2 linked regions of the Homo sapiens genome follow. The protein of the gene in region 2 interacts with the protein of the main gene of each other region in a biochemical or structural test. Each region holds a gene or a part of one and is shown on either strand. Other genes may lie near its edges. The genes, in order: ITSN1 and WIPF3.

What was found.
Region 1: the proteins of WIPF3 (region 2) and ITSN1 form a complex in vitro, tested with the Homo sapiens proteins (one study listed by BioGRID).

The regions. Positions count from the first base shown.
Region 1 is NC_000021.9:33,644,041-33,654,468, forward strand, and holds part of ITSN1 (intersectin-1), read left to right. Parts: intron 1-10,428. UniProt on the Homo sapiens protein: Adapter protein that provides a link between the endocytic membrane traffic and the actin assembly machinery. Acts as a guanine nucleotide exchange factor (GEF) for CDC42, and thereby stimulates actin nucleation mediated by WASL and the ARP2/3 complex.
Region 2 is NC_000007.14:29,808,430-29,818,857, reverse strand, and holds part of WIPF3 (WAS/WASL-interacting protein family member 3), read right to left. Parts: intron 1-10,428. UniProt on the Homo sapiens protein: May be a regulator of cytoskeletal organization. May have a role in spermatogenesis.

The sequences.
Region 1 (10,428 bases), on a different chromosome or scaffold from region 2:
CCAAAATATGAATAGGAGGAATGTATTTGTTGGGATACCTTTATTTTTAGATGACTTTAAGGTTGAGAGTGCAGAAGCTTAAACATCCTTCATAGTTATTATTTCTTAGTTTATCTCTGAGAACAAAATATGTTTCTGTTTAAAATTTCTTTTACTGGTGTGCTTGAAACGTTATTTTGATGGGAGTTTCCTTGTAAGTAAAAACATTGAAAAATACATACATATGAAAGAAAAATCCTTAGTGCAGATGGGTTTGTAAAGAATCCAGGGACTTTTAAGTCATATAAATTAAGAAGTGAGGGACACTAATTTGATGATGGTGTTAAAATTATTTCAGACACCTTTAAGTAGTCCAGTGGAGATCATTTCTGATAGTATGATCTTTTTTTAAAAAAATGGTATTTCTTTATCTAGGAATGCTTCTGTTGAAATTGCTACGGCGCATGGTACCGTCACAAAACTCTTTTATTATTCTGCCTGAGTAAGAGAGGAAATGAACAAATTTTTAATGTACTTTGGAACCCTGCGGATTGCACAGATACTAAGCATTGTGAAATAGGGCATAAAATGAGTGGTAGCAAGTTAGTTCTGTGAAATGTTTGTCGCTGTTAGCATTTTTTTTTTTTTTTGGCAGTCGACTAGCAATTTTCTTTTCCCTAAAGCTTATCTTCAATATTGGTAGTAGAACCTCTGCTCAAGTTTATCTTTTCCCCAAGTGCCTAGACTGGGACAAACTATCAAGCCTCCTGTAAGAGATTAAGGAGGAGCTGCTGGTAAATTCCTTTCCTTTTTTTTTTTCTTGAGGCAGGGTCTGGCTATGTCACAGGCTGGAGTGCAGTGGCGCAATCTTGGCATACTGCAGCCTCGACCTCCTGGGCTCCAGTGATCTTCCCACCCCAGCTTCCAGAGTATCTGGGATCACAGATGCACGCCACCATGCCCAGCTAATTTTAAAATTTTTTCTAGAGACAGGGTCTCTCTGTGTTGCTCAGGCTGGTCTAAAACGCCTACCTTAAACGATTCTCCCACCTAGGCAGCCTCCCAAAGAGCTAGGATTAGAGGAATGAGCCACCATGCTTCGTCCAAATTCCTCTACTCTAAATTATCTTTTTAATTTGCTAACATTTGTGAGTTGTAGAGAATTGATGACACGAGAGTTGGGATTATATTATGCACCTCAAATTCTTCTGCCATAGAGCTGTTCCCTTCTGAATGATCACTTCCTCCTGAATGGCTCCACTTAACTGGTTGGGTTTCTTAAAGTGTGGGCCTCAGATCACTTACATCAGCATTAATGGAGGCACTTGTTAAAAATATAGGTTTTGGGCATGGTGGATCAAACTTGTAATCCCAACACTTTGGGAGGCTGAAGTAGGAATAGCTTGGGCCCAGGAATTTGAGACCAGCTTGGGCAACACAGGGAAACCTGGTCTCTAAAAAAAAATTTTTTTTAATATTCTGGGCTTAGTGACTCGTGCCTATATTCCCAGCTTTTCTAGAGGCTGAGGTGGGAGGATCTGGTTCGCTTGAGCCCAGGAGATGGAGGCTGCAGTGAGCCATGATTGCCCTACTGCATTCTAGCCTGGGCGACAGAGAGAGCGAGCCTGTGTCCAAAAAGTAAGTAAGTAAATAAATACATAAAAATAAATACGGGTTTCTGTCACCTCGCTTCAGAATCAGACAGCTAGAGGTGGGGCCCTGGAATTGGTGTTGTTAATGCATTCTCCAGGAATTTCTCCTGCATAGGGAAGTTGGAAACCACTGGCTTCCTTCTCTCTGAGCATCTCCTGAGACTAGCTCCTGAAGTGGATAGAAAGTTTTTCAAGTAGCAGATTAAGTTTTATCCCTTAGGCTGCTAATAAAAAACAATTGACTGTGATTGCGTAATTTTACCTGTCGTACACCTTTCAGAAGGCAGAGGCTTTGGTTCACCCCTCTACCTCCAGGGCCTAAAACAGTGCCTGGAGGAACTCAATTAAACATTTGTTGAGTGAATACGTGAATTACATTGCAGCGAGGCCAATCTTTTAAAAGTTACTTGTCAAATTAATCTATCAGTTAGTGGCATATTAAAGCCCAGCATATTACAAAAAAATTTTTTTTAGTAGTCACTGATTTTATAAATTAGGAGCCACAAGCACTATACCCCAGTGACTTCTGTAAGTTTGGTTAGTTTAGAAAGGAGAGAGCCTTTCCCAGGCGTAGTGTGCTCAAGGTGATTAGCCAGAAAGAAGATTCAGAACAAAGCATTTGCTTAGAGAGTCAAAATGTAAATTTAAGTCACAGTGTAGTGGTAAATCATATATCAAACTTATATTTGGTATATTGTCTTATATCAAAATATCATTTTATAAACCATAAGTCCAACATACTGCTATAAAAATTGGTTTCTAGCAAATAGAGAAAATTGTTATGTTTTCCAATTTCACTTTTCATACTAATAAAATTTGACCTTTACACCTTCTTTTCAAGAGTTCACCACAGGGCACCATAGATATTATGTAGTTAAGAGCTCAAACTTTGGAGAATATTGTGTTTGACCACACATAGTCAGGGAGTTTGATCTAACCTCTCAATGCCTCATTTCTCAGCTGAACATGGAAATAGTAATAATAAAGTTCACATACTTCTAAGTGCTTACCTAAGTTTTTGAGACACATCCACTTAATAAATGGTAGTTACAGTGATGATAAAGAATTGGGGTGTATAAAAATACCTAAAACTCAAAAGCTAACCCATTTAATTATTGTACTACTGGACTTTTATGATAGTAAGTAGAAATCTGTTGCTTAAAAAAGAAGTTTCTTTGGTGGTGTGCGTCTATAGTCCCAGCTACTTCGGAGGCTGAGGTGGGAGAATCACTTGAACCCAGGAGATCAAGGCTGCAGTGAGCTATGATTGTGCCACTGCACTCTAGCCTGGGTGACAGAGCAAGGCCCTGTCTCAAAAAAAAAAGAAAAAAAAAAGTTTATTGCTAACTCCTTGGTACTATGTATAATTTTTTTAATTGAATGACTAGACTAAACATTGAAAGTATTTAATAAGCTATCAAATATGTATTAATATAAGTTTTGAAAATAAATACTAAATCTCCTGATCTCTTTTAGGTTAAAATATAGTTTATGATGAGCAACTAATATTCTTTGTATTTAAAAAGATAATTGTTTTATGGTAGAAAAATTGAAATACAGAAAAGTATAAAGTAGAAAACTATGAAATACCCGTAAGTCTACTACCTGCATACATATTTCTTCAAATCCTTTTGTGTGTGTGCATATGGCTATTCATATACAATTTCTGGTAACAAAAATGGGATCTTGCTATACATATGGTTGTAACCTGCTTTTTTTTTGCTTAACATCTTGTCATGAGTGTCTTTTCCTATATATATATTGCATTATAACAATTTTAGTAACCAAATAATATTCCGTTTTATGGATCTATGGTAGTTTTTTTTTTAATTTTTATTTTTTCAGACGGAGTCTCAGTCTGTTACCCAGGCTGGTGTATAGTGGCTCAATCTTGGCTCACTGCAACCTACGCTTCCCAGGTTCAAATGAATCTCTTGCCTTAGCCTCCTGATTAACTGGGATTACACATGCCTGCCACCATGCCTGGCTAATGTTTGTATTTTTAGTGGAGATGGGGTTTCGTCATGTTGGCCAGGCTGGTCTCATGCTCCTAACCTCAGGTGATCCACCTGCCTCAGCCTCCCAAAGTGCTGGGATCACAGGCGTGAGCCACCACACCCAGTCATGGATCTCTGGTGGTTTAGCCAATTTATTTTTATTAGACATTAGTTTGTTTATTTTTCCTCCACGGTTACTTATAACCCTGCAGTGACTGTCCTTCTACATATGTCTCTGAATGTACTTGTGAGATTATTTTCATTAGGATAAATTTCTACAAATGGAATTTGCAGGATCAAAGCCTATGCTAAATTTTAGGATTTTTTAAATCCGTATTTCCAATTTGTCATTTAGAAAGATTGTATCATTTTATACTCTTACCATGGTATATCAGACTTCCAGTCTCCCAGCCCCTTGTACCTTCCCCCATTTTATGGAATGACTTAACCAGTGACAAACCTAGTGAATTTTTGCTTTTAGGAAGAAGAATGGACTGTTAGTATAATGTGTTTAGTAGTGTGATATGGAAACTCAGAAATCTTGTGCATGGGTAATAGTGATAGCTAATGTCGATTAAGTTCTTTTGCAGCATCTTATATACATTAACTCACTTCACAAAAAACTCTCATCTTACAGATGCCTTGGAAACTAGGGTACCAGCAATTAGAGAGCCAGCAAGTGTCTGAGCAGATTTTTACTGTAGAGTCCAAAACTCTTAGCCTGTTTCCTAGACATGTTTTATAGGCATTTGGGTACTTTTTATGTTCTCGATTGCTGTTGTGGAGTAACTAAGAGGTTCTCTGACATGTACTAATATATAAACTGGGTGGGGCACAAATTTGAATCCCTTTCACTGAAGAGTTGGTCACATAAGTTAGCTCAGAAATTAGCTTTGGGACCGGTGCTGTGGGTCACTCCTGTAATCCCAATACTTGAGAGGCCAAGGTGGGAGCATTACTTGAGCCCAGGAGTTCCAGACTGGCCAGGGCAACATAGCAAGACCCTACAAAAAATTTTTTAAAAAGTAGCCCAGTGAGGTGATGCCCACCTGTAGTCCTAGCTACTAGGGAGGCTGAGGTGGGAGGACTGTTTGTACCCAGAAGTTGGAGGCTGCAGATGCCACAGCACTCCAGACTGGGCAACATAGTGAGATCTTGTCAAAAAAGAAAGGGGAGGGCAGGGCAAGAGAGAGAGAAAAGAAAGGAGAGAAAGAGAAAGAGAAGGAAGGAGAAAGAAAGAGGAGAGAGAGAAAAATTAGCCTCATCAACTGTCCAGCATTCATCCTTAAAGTAGTCTTGTTATCCTTTACTCTGTAGTGGTTTTCCTAAAGTACCCCTGCATGAAAAACAGGATTAGAGTGCTAGAGAAGACTAGTGAAATTTGAAAAGGCAGTTCACTTGTGATGTGGACTTGTCTTAGAAACGCAAGACTGTACAGAAGTGTGATGAGGGAGACAGCTGGGTGTGTGTGTCCAGGTAGTTCCATGTTGGCGAGTTTGGAGATAGAAAGTGGCCTAAGGAAGTTTACTTCCTGAATGTGAATGTTGGCCACTTTGGAGATAGAAAGTGGCCTAAGGAAGTTTGCTTCCTGAATGTGAAGGCCTCAGTGTAGAGAGATATCATCCACTGGGAGATCACTGAAAAGTAAACCAAAACATTTTTATTAATACATGGGATGGTAGAATGTCACTCCAGTTTTGTTCCTAAAGTTCGTAGCTCTCTAAGAAAGTGAATTTTAAGCAAGTTAATCTATTTTAATGCATCACTGCTCTTTCGGTGTTTTTCTAGTAGAATTAATGATAGGTAGCTTGCTTTATTAGCTTACTGCCCAGAGAGAACATTGGTGAAATTGTTTTGGCTTCAGCTCTCTGGACTGAGTTTGGCTGCCTAGCTCAGTTTTCAGTTGGTCACCAAAACCTGTCATTGTTTTTGTGTGGTATGGGGTCTGCTGGAGTCATGTGGTAGTGCGTTTGGCCCTTCATTGAGTGGTGGAGCCAGGAGTTGAGCTGAGGGCTGTGGCAGAATTTTGAATTCAAGTGAATTCGAATGTGAAAATAACAATGTCTGGCCGGGCGTGGTGGCTCACACCTGTAATCCCAGCACTTTGAGAGGCCGAGGTGTGCGGATCATGAGGTCAGGAGTTTGAGACCAGCCTGGCCAACATGGTGAAACCCCATCTCTACTAAAAAATACAAAAATTAGGCGGGCGTGGTGGCGCACAAGTGTAATCCCAGCTACTTGGGAGGCTGAAGCAGGAGAATTGCTTCAATTCCCTGCTTGAACCCAGGAGGTGGAGATTTCAGTGAGCTGACATCGCACCATTACACTCCAGCCTTGGCGACAGAGCGAGACTCTGTCTCAGAAAAAAAAAAAAAAAAGAAAGAAAGAAAATAACAAGGTCATAGCAACACAGCAAGTGGTCAGAATTTTACCCTTGGTGGTTAAAATTAAACATCCTCTTTTTAATACAGGAGGACAATGCTCTTGCTCCTCTGTTGCACTGGTGAGCATTTGATGTGTTCCTCCTTGCATTATGTCTGCAAATCGTTCTGGTGTCTGGTGGCATGCATTTGCAAGACATGGATACAGTTCATGGACGTGGACGAGGTCAGCTGGCTTTTAGTGTCAGGCTTTAACCAACCTAGTTAAGAAGGACGCTGACTCTTACCATAAAAGCACTGCAACAAGATTGGAATTGGAGCTCCAACGAATTGGAGCCATTCGTTTTGTGTGTGTGTGTCTGTTTGCCTGTGTGTGTGTACAGGGTTAATTACTTCTCTGCAAGGCAAATTTCCTGACCGGTTTTATTGTTCTAACACAGACAAAATGTTGTGTAAACACATATATCATTCCAGTGTGTTATCTATAATAGGAGTGTTCATTGTGGATCCAGTGTTTCACAAAAATCAATTCATTTCCGCTCTGAACTTAAGATAGTAGATTTTAAAACCAAGTTATCTTTCAATTTCTGAAGTTATCTGAAACTCAGCTGCCCCAGTCTTGCAGAATTGGAGAATTGCATTTTGGCCACTGATGAATGAAAGCTATATAGCTAGTAATGAGAGAAACCTTGAAAAATTGACAAGAAAATGAGTGCCATTCTTGGTATATAGCAGATTTCAATGAATAGTAGTTCCCTTTGCCTTTATTTTTCCTCTTTCCTGCACTTAATATAAAGAGCTAATATTAAAGTCATTAAATGAGAATAGATCTGTATTATAGGTAGCACTGCTTATTTTTAGACCCCTTCAGATACAGTTATTACAATTGTTGTTTTAATATTCTTTAAATGATTACAGGAGGAAGAAACTTGGTAGCGGGGTTACCAGGATGTTAGCTCCATGAGGGCAGGGAGTGTATCGCTGTTGTCCAGGGGGCTAGCCCCAGGCCCTAGAGCAGCGCCTGCTGCCTGGCAGACACGCAAGGGTTATTTGTTGGTTTATTAAATCAAGGAGTGTTTGAGGTCCTTCAAGCCTGGAGGCCCGAGGGCTCTGAGCTGGTACAGAGCAAGTGCTGGGGGCAAGAGAGACAGGTGGGGAGTGAAGGAGAGAGGCCCACTTGGGACTTGACTCTGAATGTCTGGGAAGTAGGAAGTTAATGTAAGTTTTAAGCAGGGGAGTCCCATGATGTGCTTTTGTTTAAAAATCTCCTTCTGAGTATCATGTGGGAGTGGATTGGAGGATGGATAGAGAGGAACATTCCATTGACTCGGCTTCCAGCTGTCTATGGATGTTGACGTTTCTACCTAGCCTTCTGCTTTATCTTTGTGATGAGGATAATGTGGTGTACTTTGTGAGGTCTCAGGAATGGTTTGAGATGAATGGTAATTTGTGTAAACTTTCCGGAGTTTCTCTGAGGAAAAGAGAACCCCATAAAATTATTACTATTGATCAAATGAAATAGCAGTGTAAGACAAAGATCAAGAATTATTTAGCTTTATAAACAAATTAATTGAGGTTATGAATATAGGTTTCTATAGGAGAGATTTTGTTTCCTTTTTTTAGTGAAAGAAATCTTAAATGTATGGGAATGAATCCTTAAAATAGCAGGCTTTTGCATTGTCTATAGAAGCTGTTCTCTTTGAGGAAGATCTGTTTTGTAAAATGCTGCTGTTGTCTGTCCAATCTGGAGTTTTAATTAGTATCAAAGGGAGGGAAATCCTGCAGTAATCGTAACCTTACTTTAATTCTTAGTTCAATTAGTTTTAAACCACAGTCATTATCTGTTATCTTTAGTTGTTTTGATCTTGGTAGATGAAGTGATTAATATTACAGTTGTGATTTGGTAATTTAAAAAATAACATGTTTTTTCCTACTACAAAAGGAATACATGTTTATTGAAGAAAACTTTTGGAAACATATATAAGGAAAGAAGACTAAAAGCCTACCAAGATCTTACCATCCAGTGATAATGACTGTTAATACCCTGTGAAGGTCAACATGCTCAAATTACCCAGCAGGTGCCTGGTGTGAAGCTACTTAGCCCGGGAGAGTTGAAGGCCTGTTAGGGACCACGAGCACTGAAGGTGGCAGGACGGTCCAGGGCCAGTCAACCCAGACCTTTGTGGTTCTGGGAGGATGCGTCCTGGTGTTACTACACCTTATAGTTATTTAGGAGAATGTGGGTTTAATATGAAATCTTCTGATTTTTATGTGGGCCACACTTTTTATTGTTAACACACTGGGGTTCAAAGCATACCTGAGGGCTGGATTCAGTCTTCGTTGCCTTGCCAGTTTGTAGCCTCAGGTACGTACAGTTTTGTAGCCTGTGTTTTTCACTTAATGTGTTGTATTTGCAGCCTTTTTTGCTACATCGTCATATATGTAATCAGTCACTTATTGCTGGACCTATAGATTCTTTGTCTTTTTGCTTTTTAATAAAGATAGGTAAAATTCTTGGACCAAAAGTTGTTTGTAAAGCCTTTGCAGCATACCGCTCTCAGATGCATTCCCCCTATCATGTAAAAGGTACTTGTTTCCTGTTCTCTTACCAGGACTGGGTAAAACCATCTCCAAAAACATCTTAGCCAATTTTATTTGTTTTAACTTGCATTATTTTCTGTATTACCAATGAGTGTGAATGATTATTAAATGCCTATTGGCCTTACACAAATTTATTTGGTAACCAACTTGTCTTGCTGGAACTCTAAGTTCCAGCAATGTTTTGGTCTTGCATTCAATGCTTCTCAGTCTTTGTGATTCCAGATAATATTAGTACTGTGTTAGTAGCAATAATTAGTACTAATTGTAGGCATCGTTCCCCAAAACTGAGGGCATCAGTATCTTTGGCACAACTATAATCCACTTAAAGTACTGTGACTGGGAAGTTCTTTTTTTTTTTTTTTTTGACAGAGTCGTGTTTTGTTGCCCAGGCTGGAGCGCAGTGGCACAGTCTTGGCTCACTGCAACCTCTGCCTCCCGGGTTCAAGTGATTCTCCTGCCTCAGCCTCCTGAGTAGCTGGGACTGCAGGCATGTGCCACCATGCCCAGCTAATTTTTATATTTTCAGTGGAGACGGGGTTTCGCCATGTTGGCCAGGCTGATCTCGAACTCCTCACTTCAGATGATCTGCCCTCCTCAGCCTCCCAAAGTGCTGGGATTACAGGCGTGAGCCACCGCACCCAGCCGTGATTGGGAAGTTCTGAGTTTAGTTAGCTGTTCAGTGAATGTTTGAGTACACGCTGTATATGCCTGGCATTGCTCTAGGTGAGTAGCCTTGAACCAAGATAGAATCTCAGCCCTCTAAGACTTCTATGCTTTTTTAAAAATTCTCGAGTTTTTCATACAGACCATCATGTTTATAAAGGACCATTTTCATTCCTAGAATTTATAATTTATTTTTAACTTGTATTTCTTTCTTTTTTTTCTTTTTTGAGACAGAGTCTCGCTCTGTTGCCCAGGCTGGAGTGCAGTGGCACGATCTCAGCTCACTGCAAGCTCCACCTCCCGGGATCATGCCATTCTCCTGCCTCAGCCTCCCGAGTAGCTGGGACTACAGGCATCAGCCACCACGCCCAGCTAATTTTTTGTATTTTTAGTAGAGACGGGGTTTCACCGTGTTAGCCAAGATGGCCTCGATCTCCTGACCTCGTGATCCGCCCGTCTCGGCCTCCCACAGTTCTGGAATTACAGGCGTGAGCCACTGCGCCCGGCCAATGTCTTTCTTTTTTTTGAGATGATGTCTTGTTATATCGCCCAGGATGGTCTTGAACTGCTGGGTTCCAGCAGTTCTCCTGTCGCAGCCTCCCAAAGTGCTGAGATTATAGGCATGAGCCACCATAACTTGTATTTGTTTATTGGCATGGAACTTCTAAAACAGTGATGAATGCTTGTTACCCTTTAATTCCTTCCTTCTTTCCTTCCTCTTTCTCTTTCTTTCTCTCTTTGTCTCTTCTTTCTCTCTTTTGTCTCACTCTGTCACCCAGGCTGAGTGCAGTGGCATGACCATGATTCACTGTATCCCCAACCTTCCAGGTTCAAGGAATCCTCCCACCTCAGCCTCCCAAGTAGCTTTGACTACAGCCACAGCCACGCACCACCACACCTGGCTAATTTTTTTTTTTTTTTTTTTGGAGAGACGATCTCGCTGTGTTGCCTAGGCTGGTCATGAACTTCTGGACTCAAGTGGACCTCTCGCCTCAGCCTCCCCAAGTGCTGGGCTTACGGGCATGAACCGCTGCACCTGGCCTTTGATTTTTTAAATTCACTTTAATTATCTTAAGTTCTGTTATACTCTAGACTCTTAGCAAGAGTCTAGAATCAACGTTAGTTATTAGTTCCGTATTTTGATTATGAGACAAG
Region 2 (10,428 bases):
TGCCTCTAAATATCTATAACATAACTCAAAATACATTATGGCAAATGGAGAAAGACTAAACAAATTCCAATTAAAGTCAGGAACAAGACAAGCATGTCCACTATTGTCACTACTAGTTATCATTATCCTACAGCTAGTAGTCAATTCAATTAGATAAAAGAAAGAACTAAATTGTATAATAGTTGAAAAGAAGGAGGCTCAATTATCATGTTTTCCCCCCAAATAATATGGCAATATATATGGAAAACCTAACAGACTCCACGGAAAAATTATCTTAATTTTATATAATTAAATTAAATAAGTATACATATTATATATAATATTATATAATTTTAATTTATAGAATTAAATCAAATAATTTAATTATTTTAATTATTTTTATTTTTTATTTTAATTATTTTTTTTGAGATGGAGTCTCGCTCTGTCTCCCAGGTTGGAGTGCAGCGGTGTGATCTCAACTCATTGCAACCTCCATCTCCCAGGTTCAAGCGATTCGCCTACTTCAGCCTCCCGAGTAGCTGGTACTACAGGCATGTGCCACCACCCCAGTTAATTTTTGTATATTTAGTAGAGATGGGGGTTTCACCATGTTGACCAGGCTGGTCTTGAACTCCTGACCTCAGGTGATCCACCCCACCTCGGCCTCCCAAAGTGCTGGGATTACAGGCTTGAGCCACTGTGCCTGGCCGGAAAATTATTTTAATTAATAAGATAATTTAAAAAGGTAGCTCTTCCAAACCAATAAACTCCAAAAAGTATCCCTGTATATAAACAATAACTGCCAGAAAGTACTGTGAAGAAATAATTGTGTTCACAATAGCAACTTTAAAAAAGTATACCTAAGCATAAACTTAACAAAATATGCAAAGACATGAAATAAAACTTCAAAACATTACTGAGAAACAGTGAAGACGTGGAAAAACACACTATAGTCTTGGGTAGGAAGACTAAATATCATACAAAAGTTGATTTTTCTCTATATTAATGTATAAATTTAAGGTGATCATAATGAAAATACTAACTTGTTTGCTTTTTATAACTACTCAAGGTGATTTCAAAGTTTACATGGAAAAATAAAATCATTGGATAATAAACAAATAATAAAGCCATATTCATTAAAACCATTTGATATTGCTATATGGAGAATCAGTAATGGTAATAGACCTGAGAGCCTGGAAATTGACCTAGGTATTTTTGGAAATTTTGGTTATTATTTTAAAAAAAGAAAGACATTGGATATCAGTGGGGAAAAGATAAGTTATTCAACAAAAAGTATTGAGTAAATTGGGTAGTAATCTGGAAAAAAATTAAGTTAGCTAACAATGTAAGGATCTCATGCCTTACATTAAATTGCAAGGAATCAAATTTTTAATTTCTAAAAAAGGAAATTATAATCATACTAAAAATATGAGAGAATTTTTAAAATCTACAAGTCAGAAAGACCTTTCTAAAATGTATAGAAGAAAAGGTTTCTGCAAAGCAATAAATACATATCTATATACATAAAACCACATTAAATAAAGCCCAGTCATACTACAAATTGCAGGGAAATTACATTAAAATAAGTCATATTATAAACTGGGGGAAATTACAGTAAAATAAAAATTATAGTAAAATGGCTGTTTTATCTTCTCTATAAGGTGTTCCTACAATAAAAATCAATAACCCGATAGAAAATACACAAATAGGCCTAAACAGTTCACACATAAGGAAACATATATGGCAATTAAACACATTCAAAGACCCTCAATGTTATTCCTAATGAGAAAATGCAAGTCAAAACCACAATCAGATACCATTTTCACCTATCAAATTGGCAAAGATAAAAAGTTTGATATGTATGTGTTGGAGAGAGTGCAGGGAATCAGACAATTATTGGTAGGAATATAAATTTGTACAACTTCTGTGAAGGGTAATGGGAAAATGTAGCAACATTTAAAAATTCACATTTCAATTCTAGGAATTTATCTTACTGATCTTTCTCACGTGTGAGAAATAATTTGTACAGTGACAAAACTTGCAGCATTTGTTTTAATAGGAAAAGGCTGGAAATAGTGTATATACCTGTCAACTGAAAACTAATTATTAAATTATGGTTCATACATTATACTGACACACTAGGTAGCTGTCACAAAGAATATGGCAGCCCTGTATGTATGAACCTGGAATGATCTCCACATTGTGTTATGTGAAAAAAGCAGGCAGCAGAAAATGTATATAGAATGAGTTTGCAGCTGGGCAGGGCAGCTCATGCCTGTAATCCCAGCACTTTGGAAAGCAGGGGCAGGATTACTTGAGGCCTAACATTCAAGACCAGCCTGGGCAACAAAGCAGGTCCCTATCTCTACTAAAAAATAAAATAAAATAAAATAAAAATAAAAATTAGCTGGTGTACTTGTAGTCCCAGCTACTCAGGAGGCTGAGGCTTGAGCTCAGGAGATGGAGTCTGCAGTGAGCCATAATCAGGCAGGCCACTGCACTCCAGCTGGGCAACAGAGAGAGACTCTGTCTCTAAAAAAATGATGATGATGATGATGATGATAATAATAATAATAATAAAAGAACGAGTATGCCTTTTCTCTGGAAGAATGCATAACTAGGTGGTCTGAGGATAGAGTACAGGAAATATTTTACAGTGAACATCCTTTTTATACTTTTTGAAGTGTCATGTGCATTATTCCTTATTCAAAAAATTAATAAGCAAAAGTTCAGGATTACCACCTCAGAGAAACACTTTATTTGGGACAACTGTGAAGAAGTATTTTTAAAAGTATTTTGAACTATCCGAATTAGGAGATCTCTTTACACCTCAAAGGCAAATACAAATAAAGAAAAAGATTAAAATGGTCTTGACGATTTGGTCTAAAGGAGCAGCTGCTGGAGCCATCGAGAGTAGGACTCAGCACTAAGGGTGGGATTTGCTGTGCTGGCCTTGCACACAGACTTCCTGGGACAGCTGAAATCACCACCACAGCCATCCACAAGTTAGAGGCGACTGACCAGGTGCACTAGGAAAATAGGCAAGAGCAGAATAAAATAATTCTCCCCAAACCAGTCATAACCCCTACAGTTTAATTCTTCTGTTATCACACGGTTAACACACAACAAGGAATGGTTTTAAGACATGATGCTCTATTAGGCATGGATAATTTTAAGTTGGTTCCAGCTGTAGCAGACCCTGTCATTTATTAACTGTGAGAACACAAGCATGCTGGTGAGAAGGTGCACATGTCTGAAATAACACGTGGGGGCTCTGTTCCCCTAGCCACAAAATACTGCCTCCCTAGATCCTATGGACAGGTATCTTGGCTCGTCTTTTTTAGATACATGTAATTCATACGGATACTGTCAAAATGAGTGCAGATCAAACACCATCCCTTAAAACTCACTGAGCATCCATGCATGCCAGGAAGGACAACAAAAGGCATAAACCCTGGCTACTCTTTAGCCTTCCTTCTATGTCCGCAGGCAAATTTCTAACCTCAAGACATACACATTTGGGTGAAAACCAGAACAACAGCAACAAAGAGTCGAGCAAAAGCTTTTAAAATGTGGGGAAAGGGAATTTGAAACTCAGGAAAAATGGTTGCTTGCTTGTCTTGTCTTACTGTTTTTTTTTCCTTTTGTCTCCTCTGACTGTGTATTTCCAAATAGCCTGTCTTCAAGCTTGCTAAGCTTCTCTTTTTCTAGGTAGTTGTCTTACCTATTTCTGACGCTACTTTATTTTTTCTCTGAATCCCTGGAGAGAAGCATGACTGAAACAAAAATGTTTCATTGAAACGTTTAAACGAGTGTTAGAATAAACGGAAGCTTTAAGGGACATCGGAGACTTAAAATCGACTCCTATTGTTAAAAGGAAGAAGAAAGTACACTTTTGGTTGTTTTCCTTGGTTCTACCATGTGAGGGGAAAATGTCCCCTCCTCTAATAGGGCGGTAATAACTTACATCAGCCACATAGGAAAGGGGCCAGTTTCATTTTTGACTACACCTTTATTCCCTGGGCAGTCATGGTTGGTGTTTCAATACTGATGTACATGGTTGGGAGGGTGCTCAGTTAAACAGTTCACTGAGAAAAACAATAGTTCACATGTACTGAGCATATTCCCTACACTAGCAATTCTGATTGTCACTTACATAACTATCTCTCATCCCCCAAAACAACTCTTCACAACAGATGTTATCATCCCCATTTCACAGATGAGGAAATGAAGGCTCAAAGACATAAGGTAATCACCCAAGATCAAATAGCTAGGATGTGACAAAATCAGATCCAACCCAAGTGAATTTGATCCCAAGCCTGTGTGCTTTCCACAACTCCCCCAGCCTTCGACAAGCACATCAGTCTCTGCACAGTCCATGCAATGCAGCAAATATGTACTGAGCTTCTTCTATCTGTTAGACACTAAGCTAGCCATGCAACAAAACTATAAACACGAGTAGCAGGTAATCAATAAATGTTTGATGGATAAATAAATCCATAGCTACATGGTTCCTGCCCACAAATGATAGCTTGTAACACTTACTGAAGGTTACTATGTGCCAGGCACTTTTGTAGAAGGCAGAAAAGGAAGGGAAAAAAAGAAGTAATAATAAAGCACAGGGTATACAAGAAAACACAAAATAAGTTCCAATATATGAGTAATCATAATAACCGTAAGCAGGTTATTACATTTATTTTGGGAGGTGGAGGCAGACAGATCGCTTGCCTAGGAGTTCGAGACCAGCCTGGCCAACATGGCAAAACCCCATCTCTACTAAAAATACAAAAATTAGCTGGGTGTCATGGCACGCGCCTGTAGTCCCAGCTACCTGGGAGGCTAAGGCAGGAGGATCACCTGTGCCTGGGTGGTCGAGGCTGCAGTGAGCTGGGATAGCACCACTGGACTCCAGTCTGGGTGACAGAGCGAAACCCTGTCTCAAAAAAAAAAAAAATTCTCTTACCAAAAAGGCCACATATTGTAAGATTCCGTTTATAGCAAATATCTATAGAAATAAAAAATAGATTAGTGGTTGTCAAGGATTGAGGGGAGGGAGATGAGAAGCGACTATTAACGGGTTTCTTCTTGGGGTGATGAAAATGTCTGGAATTAAATAATGGCGATGGTTGCACAACTGTGAAAATTCTAAAAACCACTGAAATTGTGTATTTTAAAAAGCTGAATCTTATGGTATGTGAATTATAGCTCAATAAAACTGATTTTTAAGAAAAAAACTGCTGTAGCATTATTAATATCAGGAAAAAAGAATCCAGGGCAAAAAATATGAATAGAAATATAAAATAGTTTGGAAGCATACATGAAAATTTACTTAATTGTGCCATAAGTTACGGACAAGTAAAGTGTCAGAAAGAAATGTCTGAGCCAGGTCTTCCATGACTGAAGCAGGGGCGGGTATGAGCAGAGTCCTGCCCTGTGTGAGTGCATGGGTGCTGTGGCTTGGGGGTTGTGGCAGGAAGCTCACAATGCCAGGCTGTCAAATGCTGGGCTTTTGGACCTTATTTTGTAGGTTTTTAAAGAGAGGAAAGATGTTGTTAGACATCTGTGTTCTAAAAACAGCACCGTGGGGCTATGTGTGGAAACTGAATTGTAGGGAGAGGAAGGAGCAAACAGGTATATCAATTTGGGGACCCACATGAGTAAGGATGGGTATTTATTTAAATCAGAGTAACGGCAATGGGATAGAGCCAAGGAGGAAATCAGATTGGATGTCTGGGATGGGGAAGAAGAAAGAGCCTGGGGTGACCCCTTGGGTCCTTGGTGGTCAAGACAATGTAGTGTTAAACGAGACGGAGGAGAGAGTGGGAAGCGGTGGTCAATGAGCAGAGAGAATAGATTTTAATTCGAAACATTTTGAGTTTGAGGTGCTTTTGGCAAATGGAAATTCAGATCTGAAATTTAGAGAAGAAGCAAGGCTGACAATAGCGATTTAGGAATCTTTACACAGGCAGTTGGGTGCATTTCATTCTCTAACACTAATTCCATGAAGATCTAGAAGAGTACAACATTTAAAATTACTGAGTCACCTTCTGTAATTTCTAATTAAGTCAGACACATGGCTAATAATGGAAGTCAGTCAGGTGGCTGATACTGCTAGCTGCCTACTCAATAACCATTCCCTCTTCTTCCTCACAGCAGAAGCCCTAATTTGAGTGATGGGGTTGCAATTTACCCAGCTAAAAATATTTGATTTATCAGACTCTAATATATTTAGAACAACCCTGTGACACTGTTCTGGCCAATGAGATGCAGGTGGAAGTCCTAGGGAGTGCATCACTTCCTGAATAAAAAGGTAAAACCTCACTAATAGAAGGACATTAATTCCTTTATCTATTTGCACCTTCCTTGTCTTCTTGCCTAGACTGCAGATGGAAGCCTAGAGATACTGCAGCCATATCGTCATCATGAGGCAACCAGATTTAGGATGAAGTCCTATAGGCTAAGTGTGGTGAAGCAGGAAGATGGATGGATACTGGTCTCAGATAGCTCCTGCACAGGCCCCAGACTGCCTTTCTTAGGAGTCTAATTCCACAAGACAAATAAACAAATCCATGTAAGCCAGATTTGGGTGTGTGCACTGGTTTGGTTTTGTTTACTTTGGCAGCTGCTACAATTCACATCTGGATATATATACGGGAGTGGGGAGCTTAAAAGACATGAGCACTATTATTTCAATAATAAAAAATGTTTAAAAAATAAAATATTTATGCTTTCTAGCACTGGATTTTTCTTTTTCCAAGTAGGTAATAAAAATTTTCAGCTAAAGGGAAATTATGGACTGCTGGTATTAAGAAAATTCATAAATACATAATCATCTGTTAATGAGCACATGTGCACAATGACACCCTTTGGACTTTTCCTGGATGAGGTAAACTGATTTGGCTCATTTAAATGGCTTCAGCCAGAGCCAAAGTTCTTAAAGATGAGACTGTTCACTACCTGACTCTCATAAGAATTACAATCTTTGGAAGGAAGGCTCTGGCTCTTCCAGGCACTCAGTAAGCATAGCTAAGAATACAGAATGTCCCTGAACCACAGCATTTTGGCCCTGCAAAGAGCTTTTACTGAGCTGTGTGGGATTATGTCTCCGGAACTGCAGTCAATAAAGTTCTAGGAAACACTTACTTTTGCCTTCTACCACAGCACTTCCATTGTCTTTATGGCAGGGATGATGTTGAAGACTTAGGTCTCTATGGCAACAGTGAGTGCATTGAACACCTGCCAGGAGAAAGTTATCCCAGGTTTCAGGACCAGGAAAAGCTGTGTAACCAATCTGTTTTTATCTCATGGTCACTGTGGATCAGGTAACTATTTATGTTTTCTTTTTTGTTTTGGCTGCTGGGAAGCTCTGGCAAATTTTTACTCCCACCTCTGGAAACTATCCACAACTTATGATCTATTCTGGTTCTGTAAATTACCTCTGATTTTATCTCACTTTCTAACCCGTGTGTTCCCTTTACCTCAGTTTCATTATCTATTAATTTTATGTTGTTTGCTATTTTTGTAAACTCCTTGAACACTTTATGGAACACGGAACATTTAAGGCAAACAATTTTTAAAAGCATCAGATCATCATCATCATCATCATCATCATCATCATCATCATAATGGCTAATTGACTGAACATTGCTATGAATGAGGCACTGTCCTAAGTACCAAATCTATCTTATGGCTGGGCAAGGCAGATCATGTCTGTAATCCCAGCACTTTGGGAGGCTGAGGCAGGAGGATCGCTTAAATCCAGGAGTTTGAGACCAGCCTGGGCAGTATAGTCAGATCCTGTCTCTACAAAAAATAAAAAAAAATTAGCCGGGCATGGTGGCACGTGCCTGTAGTTCCAATTCCTCAGGAGGCTGAGGTGGGAGGATCACTTGAGTGTGGGAGTTGGAGGCAGTAGTGAGCTGTGATCAAACCACTGCACTCCAGCTTGGGCAACAGAGCAAGACCCTATCAAAAAACAAAAAAACAGAATAAATCTATCTTATTAGCCTTAAACATGAGATAAATACTATTATTATCCTCATTTTCTAGATGAGAAAACCAAAACACAGAGAGGTTAAGTAATTTGTCCAAGATCATACAGCAAATAAATGATGCATGTAAGATTCATGCAAAATAGTCCAGGGATTCTGACTTACATAAGTTATACAAAAGAATAAATAATTTCTTAAAGAAGCAGAGGCTTTTTGATTTTATAGGCTGAGCCCTAAAGGAGATAACTATTGGAAATCTCATCCATACAGTTATGCCTGATGGAGCCATATTAACAAAAGGGAATGAGACAGTGAAAGTTAAAACAACAGATAAAACACAACAAATAATTGTCTTTTGATCTTGGAACATACTTCCAGATATTCATTCATTCATTCATTCATTCATTCATTCACTCACACAATTACTGATTCCTCCACTTACACAGTCCTTTAATTCATTCAACAACCTTTAGGGAGTACCCCTCACTTGCCAGGCATGGGGCAGGTGCTATGCTGGGAATGGAGATGAACACAGTTCCTGCCTTCCAGGAGCTCAGGTGCAATAAGAGAGAGTCAGGTAGGTTGGGGACACCTTGGGGTTATGAGTGGGTTGATAAAAGACCACAGCAGGGTGCAACATGATCATTCTGAGAGTAAGTCAGCCTTCGGCTTCTGTCTCCCCTTTGATAAAGGAGTATGAAGAATCAGCTCCCTATAGGGCTGCTGTAGTGATGTCCTACATATAAAGCTCTTAGCCTAGCCCCGGGCAGGGCTAGCTAGTCATTAGCTCTTAAGGAACAGTGGATGGCAACCTGGGCACCTTGCTCAGACACACATGTGCACTCACACAGACACACGTCCTCAGAAACTCAAGCACTGAGACTGGCTACTGCCTCCTCCTAGCTAACCAAGAGCTGACTCTCACAGTCCATGTGCAGGCCTGGCACTCTCTCCTGGATGCCACCATCCTAGATGCGGTGTTAGCTGGAAAACACCACCCACATAGGATGAACATTCCTTCAAGATGCACTTGAAAATCTTCCTCCACAGTGCCTGGCCCACATAATGCCCGCTGGGCATTTTTGTCACGTTTACTCTGCTTTAGTTTACCTCCTTGGCACTTGAACACCGCAGTTCACTACACAATTCCCCTGCTGCATAATGGTCGGGTTCCCTCTTGAACAGGTCTAAGGAAAGACGCAGCTAGAATTGCAAAAGGGGAGTTTCAAGTGCCCTACTGGCTGAAGCCAGTGAGAAAACACGTGTGCTGCCCCTGCCCAGCATCGGCTGGGGAAAGGCATGCCTCTTCGGTTTTGTACAGTGGCTAAATAAAAAGCAATTAATCACTTTCTCACCAACCCTAACTCATATTTAATAGTTCCCCTCGAAGTTTGTTTTGTCATGCTGTCGGCAAAGTCAGTCAAACATTACGATTCTTTTCTAAATATTCCAGCAGCCAGATGGCAGAAGCACCACTGTGACAAGGCAAACTTGCCTAAAGATAACTTTGTGATGCAGAACCATGCTCGATGGCACTGGGCTGAGGGGACTCACCCAGAGCTATTTCTAAATTGCTCCCCTTAACCCACGTTCTTTACACCAAAACTTCCTAAGACAAACATTCAACTCTGCAACTTGAAACTGGTGGTAAAACAAAGACGTTTCTACCTCTTTAAGTTCGGAATATTAGGCAGAAAAATAAAATCACTAGAAGACCACACATCAGGACAAAGTTCTCAGGATTTCTCCGTAGATTTAAGGCTACTGTACCCTAATGTTTCAAATATTTCTGCACCAAAGTTCATATATATTAAATATTTATAACACATTTGCTAGAAAACACATTTCCTTCCTTTTGCTGAGTTATTTGTGTAGGTTTCTTTTTTAAAAACTTCAACATTAATAAACATATTTATAAATTCTAGAATGTAAAAAAGTTGACTGCCATCCTGGTGAAAATTCTATGTTTCCCTCTACTGTTAATCACATTTTGTTTTCTCGGATCTTTCCTAGGTTATATTCTTTATTCTTTGTGTATGTGTTGGAGTGACTGCAAACTCGCAACCTGTACTATATGGTTTCTGAACAATAAGTCTCCTAAAAAGAGCGTTGCCAGGCTAGACCAGCTGGCTTTCCCCTGTTCTTATAACTGTATGTTCTTAGACACACACACACACACACACACACACACACACACTTCCTCCATTCCTTCTGCTGCTGGGTAACTGCAATCTGTGACACAATGTCACACTCACAATTACGTGAAAACAGAGACTCCTAAAGGAACAAAAAGGGGGCAATGGCAGGAAGCCAGCCTACAAGTGTCTGTCACCCTGACCGCTCTGCCCCGATTCAGGTGGCCACAAATTGCCTGTTGAAGGTTGCCTGTCTAGAATTTGAAGTCTGTGTGCCCAGGCTGTTACCCTGAGTAAGTAATTTAACCTCTGTGACCTTTTAT